Linked DNA regions of Homo sapiens: region 1 is linked to region 2. Evidence: fine-mapped expression QTL. A gene starts in region 2. The other region holds a variant in brackets. All regions are shown on one strand. Distances are from middle to middle. Region 1 holds the start of ARRDC1 (arrestin domain containing 1). Region 2 holds the start of DPH7 (diphthamide biosynthesis 7).

Region 1 (5,505 bases), 26 kb before region 2:
GTCAGGAGATCCAGACCCTCCTGGCTAACACGGTGAAACCCCGTCTCTACTAAAAATACACAAATTAGCCGGGTGTGGTGGCGGGCGCCTGTAGTCCCAGCTCTTAAGGAGGCTGAGGCAGGAGAATGGCGTGAACCGGGGAGGCGGAGCTTGCAGTGAGCCGAGATCGCGCCGGCACACTCCAGCCTGGGCGACAGAGGGAGACTCCGTCTCGAAAAAATAAATTAAAAAAATAAAAATAAAAAATGTTTCCTGTGTTCAGATGCACAAGCAAGGACAAGCTGCTGGAGGCTGCAGGCCTCTCTGACTCTAAGGAAGATCATGACTGGGCTGCGTTCTCAAGTGACCACTGGAACTTTCTTCTCCAGCTGGGGCTCCCACCTGTTCAGCAGCCCCTCCCTTGCACCACCTGCACTTGGACCATGAAGACCCACCCACTCCTCATCCTCATCCCAAAGGACTCACGCCTGCCACAGAAGCTGTGACCTGTAAGCCACTCCCCCAGTCCTGTTTCCAAATCTGTATCATGAGAGTAACAACCGTGCCACTTGCCAGGGCGCTGAGGGTTAACTGAGGCTGGCCCGTGGCACGTGGAGAGAATTGCATCGGGCCCACCATGAGTGCTCCGAGAACCACTGTCGGCCCTGGTCGCCCATCCCAGTAACAGCAGAACAAGAAGTGGTCCTGCCTGAACCCCAGCCCTGGACTGGGCCAGCCTGAGCTCCAGAAAACTGCTCCCTCCCAGGCCTCCCTCCGCGTCAGCCCTTTAGACAGCCGGTGTCCTCACGGCTGGGTGCTGACTGTCACCGACACTCATCGGCAGAGTAAGTGAGCAAGCTCTGGGGCCCAGGCAGGGCTGCTGTCCTCCTGGGGGCTGAGGGCCTCCCTACTGGCTCCTAGCAGGATTGACAAGCATCCTCTGAATGAGGAAAAGAAACCATGGTCCTTCTGTTCCCATCCCAGGCAGGGCTGGGGGAAACCCCCGGGGGCCCCGGTACACCCTCCCACCTCACTTGCAGCAGCCTGAATCATGTGCTCTCTGGCCCATCAGGGCCCATCTCCTACTCCTTAGCTCACGACCCTCCTTTTTCTCCCTCATTCAGACCAGCCTCTGTGAGGTAGGACCATCAGCCAGTGCTCCCTCGGCTCTTGGGCCAGCTGCCCAAAGTGCTGGGATTACAGGCGTGAGCATTCAACCCACCCACCACGTCCACCCGGAGGCCAGGGGAGCCTGCACACCCAGGCCAGTCACGCACCGCGGGGCCGTCCCTTCCCTGTGGTAAGCAATGGCCTGCTCACCCCAGGCCACGCCAGGGGAAGGACGACAGGGTCCTGCACAGCCCTCAACCAGGATCCAGCCGGCCTCACCACACACCACACCTGTACCCAAGAGATGTGTGTGCTATCTCTGCCCTGCCACGGCCACACCTGCCCCCACCCAGACCCCAAACTCAAGGTTGGGACAGAGGAAGGGAGGCTGTGGGGTCATCCCAGGAGGCCCAGTGGGGCCAGGAGCCTGACAGAAGCACCTACCACCCGGCTTCTTCCGAGGCCCCACAGCCTCAGGCGGTGCAGGGTCAGGGCCACAGCACCATCACCTGTCCCAGGAGGCTGAGAGGACAGAACAGAGACTGTGGGTTCTCAGCAGGCACAAAATCGGTGCTGTTACCCACGCGCGGGCCCAGCGGTCAAGGTCCAGCGGCAAGTCCAGGGGCTGTGGCACAGGCCAAGCAGCCCAGGTGGTTCCCACAGGAGGCCAAGGTAGAGAAGTCCCCGGCAGGGACGCGGCACTCACAGCCAAGGGCCGGGCAGAGGCAGCCTCACCTCGCGGGCCGGCCCTCACCTCCAGGGCGCCCTGCCAGCGGCCACTGCAGCAACCCGATACCCAGTCCCCGAGGCCCAGGCGTCCACCTCGGCGGGGGGCCGGCGAGGCCTGCTGGCGGGTGGCAGGGGGCGCAGGGAGCCGCAGCAGGTGTCTGCACCCCGCCGGGACCGCACGCCCGCGCCAGGAGCGGCTCTGCAGCGGGAGCGCCTGCGCCGGGAGCCAGGGTGCGGGAAGGAGCCCAGCAGGTGCGAGCGCGGACGGGGAGGGTCGCAGGCCTGCGTGCGCCCGCGCTCAGGGCGTCCTCCACAGTGGACCCGCTTCAGGCCCCGCCGGGACCCCGCCGCCCCTCGGCGAGAGGGCAGGAAGGGCAGACGCGGAAGGGCGGCGCCGCCCGGACCTCCCCGGCGCCGCCGAGCCCGCTTCCCAGCAGTCCCGGGCGGCGAAGACAGCGACTCCGCGGGCCCAACCCGGGGCCAGGCGACGGCAGCCGCTTCCGGGAGCCCTGGCCCCGCGCAGGTGCGGCCAAAGGCCCTCCCCGAGGACCCGCGCCCACCTCGGAACGGCAGCGGTGCCCCCAGGCGCACGCGCACGGTCCCAGCCAACGGCTCCCCGGGGCTGTAGACGACGCGGCCGTGGCTCAGGCTGATCTCGAAGAGCTGCACTCGCCCCATGCCGCGGCCTCACCGGCCAGCCGCGCAGCGACGCCCCCGCCCGCCGCCCGCGAGTCCCGGCTCCGAGGCCCGGCCCCGCCCCCTCCTATGCCCCGCCCCCATCCGTCCCAATCCCGGCCTCCACCCCCATCCGGCCCCTCCCAGGCCCTGCCCCGCCCCACGGCCCCGCCCAGCCCCCCGGCCGCCCCGTAGCCCGCGGACTGCCGCTCGGAGGCCCGGCCCAGCCCCTATTCCCCGCCCCATCCGTCCGTGTGGCCCCGCCCCCTCGTTATTCCCCGCCCCTCTGACAGCCTCCTCGCCCCGCCCCCGCCCTTCGCCCCTGCCTCGCCTTCCCAGCTCCGCCCCTGCCTCGGCCGCCCCACCCCTGCCCCGCCCCCCGGCCGCGCTCATCCATCCCCGGCCCTGGCCCTGTCCCGGCTGGGTAGGTGCTGCGCTGCGTCGGGCGCCGCTTAAGGGACTTGAGGCGCAAGCGTCCCGTGCGTCCCCCACGGAGGGAGTCACCGCCGCGTCTCCGTCGGGGGGC[A/G]GGGCTGGGGGCGGGGCCGAGGCGAGCTCTGAGACTGGGAAGGTCTCCCCGCTGCACTCTGCTGCGGGCAGAACCCACTCCTCCGCCCCCACCCTCCGCCCGTCCCGCCCAGGGGTCTCCCTCACCCCGAGTCGCGGAAAAACGTCACGGGGCCGCGCGGGCGTCCTGGGCGGGGATGCTCCGCCGCGTAGGACCTGCCCCGCCTCAACCCCCACCCCCGGCTCCTGCCCCGCACCCCCAACCTTCTCCGCACCTACCTCGCGTCCCAGCACCTGTCGCGCCCCTCCGGAACCTGCCCGCCCTCCCGCCTTCCCGGTACCTGCCTACCCCCGCAACTGTCCCGGCCCCCAACACCTGCATCGCCCAACCCCTTCCCCCCCCGCCCCCTGCCTTCCCCGCACCTGCCCGGAGTCCCAGCACCTGCCCCGCCCCCCGCTATCCCCCTCCTTGCTGGCCTGATGGGGTGTGGGCCCAAGGGAGCCACACTTGGGCGGAGGCCCTTGGGCAGGGGTCCGCAGCAGAAGGGTCGGGGGCCAGGTGGGGCGAGGACTTGGATCACTTGAAACCAGGAGGAACACACTCCCATTTATCTTTTTTAAAGGGTCCCTTTGTAGAGAGTGAGCCGCGGGGGGTGGGACTCAAATACCCAGGGGACCTAAGGCGGGAGAGACCGGTTGGGTAGTCCTGGAGAGGGAAGGCGTCGCTCGACAAGGACCAGCTCACCACGGAGTGGGTGTGCGGGCCCCAGTGCTGCGAGTTTTTCTAGGACAGCCGGTGAAGAGGGTGGCCTTCTCTGATGGGGAGGACGGACCTAGATACACATGGTTTGGGGGTGGGAGGGTCATCACATGCAGAGTCTGAGGTGCCACTGATCCCCAATGGACCAAGTACTTCCGTGCATGAGCCTGGGAGTCAAGCACTAAAATGTTGCCATCCCTAGTTGGTAGAAGGTAACAGGTCAGGGAGGAGGAGTCTGGCACCCCAGCAAAGAGAAAGGGGCTCACAGGCTGGAGGGGCCCCCGGGCCAGGCTGGGAGAGGCCCTGAAGCCCCAGGCCCAGCTCACTCCCTTAGGATTCCGATGTTTCCGGAGGTGGGTCTAACTGGCCATGCTCCAGACACTTTCCTGCCAAGGCTATGCACAGGCAGAATTCCCGAACAAGAGAGAAGGGTGCCATGGGATGGCAAGGATTGTGGACAGCCCTCCCGAATGGCAGTCGGCCATGCCAGAAGTCAGAAAGAAGGTGTTTCACCGGGCGCGGTGGCTCGCACCTCTAATCCCAGCACTTTGGGAGGCCGAGGTGGACGGATCACGAGGTCAGGAGATCGAGTCCATCCTGGCTAACATGGTGAAACCCCGTCTCTACTAAAAATACAAAAAGAAAAAAAAAAATTAGCCGGGCGTGGTGACAGGCGCCGTGGTCCCAGCTACTTGGGAGGCTGAGGCAGGAGAATGGCGTGAATCCAGGAGGCGGAGCTTGCAGTGAGCCAAGATCACGCCACTGCACTCCAGCCTGGGCAACAGAGTGAGACTCCATTTCAAAAAAAAAAAACAGAAAAAGAAAAAAAAGAAAGTGTTTCAAGCAAGGGACAGACAGACTGTATTGCAAGCTACTGAGATGGAAGACAATGGACACAGAACACAGGTGGCCTTTATCCCAGGTCAGCCACAATCTAAGCCCCACAGGACTCTGCACATCCTTGATTCTGACCCTATCTCCCACCCATCCTGTGTTCCAGAAACCACCACCAGCACCAACCGCCCTGTCATTAGACTCTTCTTCTCCAAGCATACTTCTAGCTGCACTCTCATGAAAACCTGGCTTCCCCTGGAGCTTTCGGGTGTAGAGATATCTTTTCGCAGGATCCCTCTACCTCTGGGTCTGTAGGTGGGGTTGGGGCCCTCCTGGCTCCTTCCTAACACTACCAGGCCATTCTCCACCCTGGGAGCTACCATGTGTAAGCTTCCTGGTCTCAGAATCACCAGCACCACCTTCGCTCTGGTCGGCATCTTCATTTCTTGGTGATTTTAGCTCCTAACTCACTGTCATTCCCTCCATCTCCAAGTGTGGAAACTCAGTGCTTCTGAATCCACACAGGCAATCCTTCCAGCCTCCTGCCCTATATCCTAAAAGTACCTGGGTTTTGTTTGAATCAGGTATAGTAAAGTGACAGACTAGAAGACAAGTGCCACAAAGGAAGGATTTAGTACTCGTGGTTCTCAGGAGGAGGGGCCCTGCCATGCCACGCAGGGCCAGAAGGGGAAGTACCAGGGTCAGGAGGAGCCAGGAGAGAGCATGACCCAGAGCCTTTTTTGTGTTTTCCTCAGGGTGAAAATGGACAAGGCAGGGTAGGTAAGTGTGAGCAAGTTTAGGATTAGATAGCTTGAATCATGTCAGCAGACTCTAGGTCACAGCAGGGGGCTCTAGCCGTCTGGTATCTGTCCCTGGGGGATGCAGGGCAGGAGAAATGCTGGCTTGGGGTGTGA
Region 2 (5,000 bases):
CATCTTGTACCCATAGAGCTGCCCCAGGGAAACATGCCAGGCTGTGTGGCTGGGATCCTGCCTGTCTCCAGGTGCGCCCAGCCAGAGGCCTTGCTTCTTGGGAGCTGGAAGCCTGGCCAGTCCGACTCTGACCTGTCTGGTCTGGTCCGGTCCGACCCTGTGTTGGTCCCACAGGTTGCTGCTACACTTTCCCTTCTTGAAGCTCCACTGCCATGTTCCAGGACACCCTGTGTGTTCTCATTGCTGCCCCTGGCTGGGCTGGCTTTTGTCTGTAAGCAAAACTTCCAGTACCTTTTCTGGCAGTACCCTGGGGGCTCCTGAAGAACAGGACTGCTGAAAATGGGTGATATCAACAAACTCCGCAGGATTTCCTGGAGCTTAGAGAACTGCATGTGCCCACATCAGGCCCTGAGAAGCCCCCTTAGCTGCTGCAAAGGTTGGGGACATTTTTTGCTGAGTAGGTGAAAGCTGCCAGGGAGGGGGACATATGTGTCCCTAGAGATGGCGGGTCAGCAGGTTGGGGTTTGGGGCAGTCTTCAGGCCTGGAGCCCCGAGTGCCCTCAGGCAGCCTGCTTTCAGATAGAGTCTGAGGATGAGCACGGAGTGCAGGGGTCCCCTTTACCTGCATCCAGGGGTGTGGCCATGTTGCCCCTGACCAGCAGGGCTGCTTTGTTTGGCAGTCATTCATCAGAAAAGTGCACTGAAAGAAGCGCCCAGGGCCTCCCACCTGTGAGACACCACGCTGGGGAAGGGGGCGGTGCAGGTTCTAGGTTTGCATGTGGCAGCTCCTCCAGGCCTCACCCCAGCAGGTGGCACCGTGAGGGTGGGACGGGCCCCACCACTGCTTCCCTCTCACCTGATACCCAATCCTCTGGTCATCTTTCCCGTTCCGTGGCCCCGACTTCTTGGTCTTCGTAGCCAGGTATCTAAGACGTCCTGTGAGGACATCCAGATGGCTGCAATGTGGGGCTGCTTCTAAAGCTTGTTTGGAGTGTGGTGTGTTGGGATGCGCACCTGGTCACTCTCCCTCCCCCGCAGAGGTGTGTGGTTGAGGCCCTTTTGGAATGCCCTGCTGCCTTCCTGGCCAGCCTTTTCTGCGCCTCTGTCTCTGTGGTGGTCTGAGCTGTTGGCTCTCTGCCATGTCTTTAGCCACAGCCCTGCTTGAAGCCCTGAGGCTGAATACCCAGGCACCCGTATATTTCAGTCAAGTCCGCCTTAGCTTCCTGGAGCTGCCGCAACAAAGCAGCGCGAGCTGTGCAGCCTGAAGCAGCGGGAATTCACAGTCTAGGCTCTGGAGGCCGGAGTCTCAGATGAAGGCGCAGGCAAGGGCCCTCAGGTGCGGACGCCTCCTCCCTGCCAGGTGCCTTGCCTGCCTCCCTGTGCTCTGCACAGCAATGGCCCTGCAAGTCTTCTGCATCAGCTTTCTCTTCTGCGGACTCCTGCTCCTCTGGGTCAGGGCCCACGCCTGCTGCTTCTGAGAGCCCCTGTTTGTTAAGGATGCTCTCTGAGGTGCTGGGGTCTTCAGTCCATTGTTTTTTGGGGGGCACAGTTCAACCTGTAACGGCCCAAGGGGTTCTTCCTGCCCGCTGCACACATTCAGACCGTGGATTGCAATAAAGAAAAAAAGTTTAGGGCCGGGCGCAGTGGCTCACACCTGTAACCCCAGCACTTTGGGAGGCCGAGGCGGGTGGATCACGAGGTCAGAAGATCGAGACCATCCTGGCTAACACGGTGAAACCCCGTCTCTACTAAAAATACAAAAAATTAGCTGGGCGTGGTGATGCGCGCCTGTAGTCCCAGCTACTGGGGAGGCTGAGGCAGGAGAATGGCTTAAACCCGGGAGGCGGAGCTTGCAGTGAACTGAGATCGCGCCACTGCACTCCAGCCTGGGTGACAGAGCAAGACTCCGTCTCAAAAAAAAAAAACAAAAAAATTAATAGACACGGGCCGGCCAGGCCACATGTGAGATGGAGTTCGTCCTCAGATCATCTTGTCCAAAGCTCCTAGGTTAGGGGTTTTTTCAAAGGCAGTTTTGGGGGAGGGGGGCGGCGGCCAGGCGACTGGTGCTGATAATCATAGGGGTCGGAGCCGTCCACCTGCTGAGCCGCTTCTGGGGGGTCCTGATGCAGCCACGGGTGTCAGACAAGCAAAGACCCTGGAAGGCGGTCTCTGAGGGGCAGCTCCGCCATGGCGGGTTCACAGGAGGCAGGCAGAGCGCGCCTGCGGCCTCGGGGTGCTGGGCTTAGTGGGGCGCGGGCTCCTCATCAGCTTTACGAAGGCGTTGATTCCGGGGCAAGGCCTGTCATGGAAACTGCAGCCTAAATGTTAAGTCAGCGCGGCCCGATGGCCAGGAGTAACCGGGAGGGCGCCACGGGGTGCGCTACCGCAGCTCGCTGTTGGGGTTTTTCTCAGTGATAGAAATTTTGCAGAGGCGGCTTCAAACCTACGGCTCTGTCACTAACTTGCCGTCTCCAAACCTGCTTTGTGGAGGAGCGGATTTCCCGAAGCCTTCGGTCTCTACGGCCCCGCAGGGAGCAGCGCGTCTGACGCCTGAAGCCCGCCGCGGTCAGCCGGCCGACAGGGGGCGTGGGAGCCTGGCTTCCCAGGGGCGTCCACGGAGGCCAAGGCCCTGCCGGATGTCCCGCCCCGGCACCCCGGAAGGAGTCGCGAGAGAGGCGGCCCGCGCTGACGGTGTCCCTGGGGCTCTGCGCTCGTCCGGCCGGCCCCGGCCTCGCCGCCCCGCGCAGTACCCAGCCCGGCCCCGCCGACCCGCCTCTACTGCCGGCTCCGCGCCCTTCCCCGAGGGCTGGATGATGGGCTGTTTCGCCCTGCAAACGGTGGACACCGAGCTGACCGCGGACTCGGTGGAGTGGTGCCCGCTGCAAGGCTGCAGGCACCTGCTGGCGTGCGGGACCTACCAGCTGCGGCGGCCGGAGGACCGGCCTGCCGGCCCCCAGAACAAGGTGCGCGCGCCGCGGCTTCGGGAGGGGAGGGCGGGGCCGGCCACGAGGTTGAGGCCGAAAGGCGCACCGAATCGCCCAGGAGATGAAGAGGGGATATTGGCCCTTTGGCCAGGAGGTAGGCTGGAAACAGTTTAGAATCTTTTTAAAAAAATTGTTCTCGGCCGGGCGCAGTGGCTCACGCCTGTAATCCCAGCACTTTGGGAGGCCGAGGCGGACGGATCACGAGGTCAGGAGATCGAGACCATCCTGGCTAACATGGTGAAACCCCGTCTCTACTAAAAAAATACAAAACAATTAGCCGGGCGTGGTGGCGGCGCCTGTAGTCCCAGCCACTCGGGAGGCTGAGGCAGGAGAATGGCGTGAACCCGGGAGGCAGAGCTTGCAGTGAGCCGAGATCGCACCACTGCATTCCAGCCTGGGCGATACAGCAAGACTACATCTCAAAAAAAAGAAATTACTTTTTTCTGAGACAAGGTCTTGCACTGTCACCCAGGCTGGAGTGCAGCCTCGGACTCCAGGGCTCAGGGCATCCTCCCGCCTCAACCCCCTGAGTAGCTGGCACCACAGGCACGAGCCACCGCCCCCGGCCAACTTTAAAATCTTGAGAGCAGAACGTCTTCTATATACAGGTGTGGCCCAAGGGAATGGGTGGAATGTACAGTAAAGAGAAAGTGGGAATTATATCTTAACTTCTGGTGGGTACATATTAGGATCCAAATTGGGCACTGGAACAACAGGCGTAAGTCAGGACTGTCCCAGGCAAACTGGGTTCTGTGGTTACCCTAGCCATAGCTGGTCCCTGTTGGCCGGTTTAGAAGGAGCCTTCTCTACTGGGTCCAGGAGTGTTCACCTACTCATTAATAGACGTTTCTCCAGCTCAGAAAACCAGAGGTTCTCCTTCCAGGCAGAATTCCACTCCTTTAGTCATGGCAAACCTTTGAGTTCCTTGGATCCCTTTTCCCATCCTTTGGGTTCCTTCGTGTCTTGGGATAATCAGAGACTACCTCTGCATTTTTTGTAGGGTGGAATGGAAGTTAAGGAGCCTCAGGTCCGTTTAGGCCGTCTCTTCCTGTACAGTTTCAATGACAACAACTCTATTCACCCTCTGGTCGAGGTCCAAAGAAAAGATACTTCTGCAATCCTGGACATGAAATGGTATAACTGTGATAATCCCACTGGGTGTAGAATTTGTCATGAGTAGCAATCAGGGAAGCCTGATGCCTGATGCCTTCAACAAGACAGGCATTGCATCTCAACTTTGGATTTGTTTCTTTGCTGTCCCGCCTATCTTCCACCTGGGGAGTGCTTTACCTGGGGCTTATTTCCTTTGTCATGTTCCAGCCGGGGAAGTGATGGGAGTTTTCTGACTTCATAACCTGGGGCGTCTTTTGTTTGAGAACACAGTTGTAGGCTCTAGCCCACTTTTGGAGCTGAGATTTAAATGCAGTGGTGTGTGGCATAATTATGTTTTGGTCAACAATGGAGCACGTATACCATGGTGGTGCCTTAACGTAATGGAGATGCCCTATACAGGTGTACCAGTTTTTATCCTTTTTAATTTTTTTTTTTTTGAGGCAGGGTTTTGTTCCGTTGCCCAGGCTGGAATGCAGTCACGTGATCATAGCTCACTGCAGCCTTGAACTCCTGGGCTCAAGCAATTCTCTGTCTCAGCCTCTCGAGTAGCTGAGACTTCAGACTTCAGGTAGATGCCACCATGCCTCTTTTTTTTTTTTTTGAGACGGAGTCTCGCTCTGTCGCCCGGGCTAGAGTGCAGTGGCGCGGTCTCGGCTCACTGCAAGCTCCGCCTCCTGAGTTCACGCCATTCTCCTGCGTCAGCCTCCCTAAGAGCTCGGTCTACAGGCGCCCGCCACCACACCCGGCTTATTTTTTTGTATTTTTAGTAGAGACGTGGTTTCACCATGTTATTAGGATGGTCTTGATCTCCTGACCTCGTGATCCACCCGCCTCAGCCTCCCAACGTGCTGGGATTACAGGCGTGAGCCACGACGCCTGGCCTTACCACACCTCATTTTTGTT

The links. PIP is the estimated chance that this variant, and not a neighbour inherited with it, causes the effect.
Region 1: its variant is the best candidate, but not a certain one, in a credible set for the expression of DPH7 in nucleus accumbens (GTEx, PIP 0.50).

What each region holds. Positions count from the first base shown.
Region 1 is chr9:137,602,709-137,608,213 of GRCh38, reverse strand. ARRDC1 (arrestin domain containing 1) reads right to left here and starts at 2,528. Exons shown (of 8, transcript NM_152285.4): 1 at 2,379-2,528. The coding sequence starts at 2,496. It overlaps LOC124902318 (a long non-coding RNA gene), which reads left to right and starts at 2,876. Exons shown (of 3, transcript XR_007061885.1): 1 at 2,876-2,917. RefSeq lists silencers at 1,857-2,126, 2,137-3,266. The variant A/G (reference allele first, on the strand shown) is at 3,020.
Region 2 is chr9:137,576,588-137,581,587 of GRCh38, reverse strand. DPH7 (diphthamide biosynthesis 7) reads left to right here and starts at 2,663. Exons shown (of 9, transcript NM_138778.5): 1 at 2,663-2,963; 2 at 3,985-4,118. The coding sequence starts at 2,811. RefSeq lists enhancers at 2,258-2,317, 1,412-2,383 and a silencer at 2,568-2,977.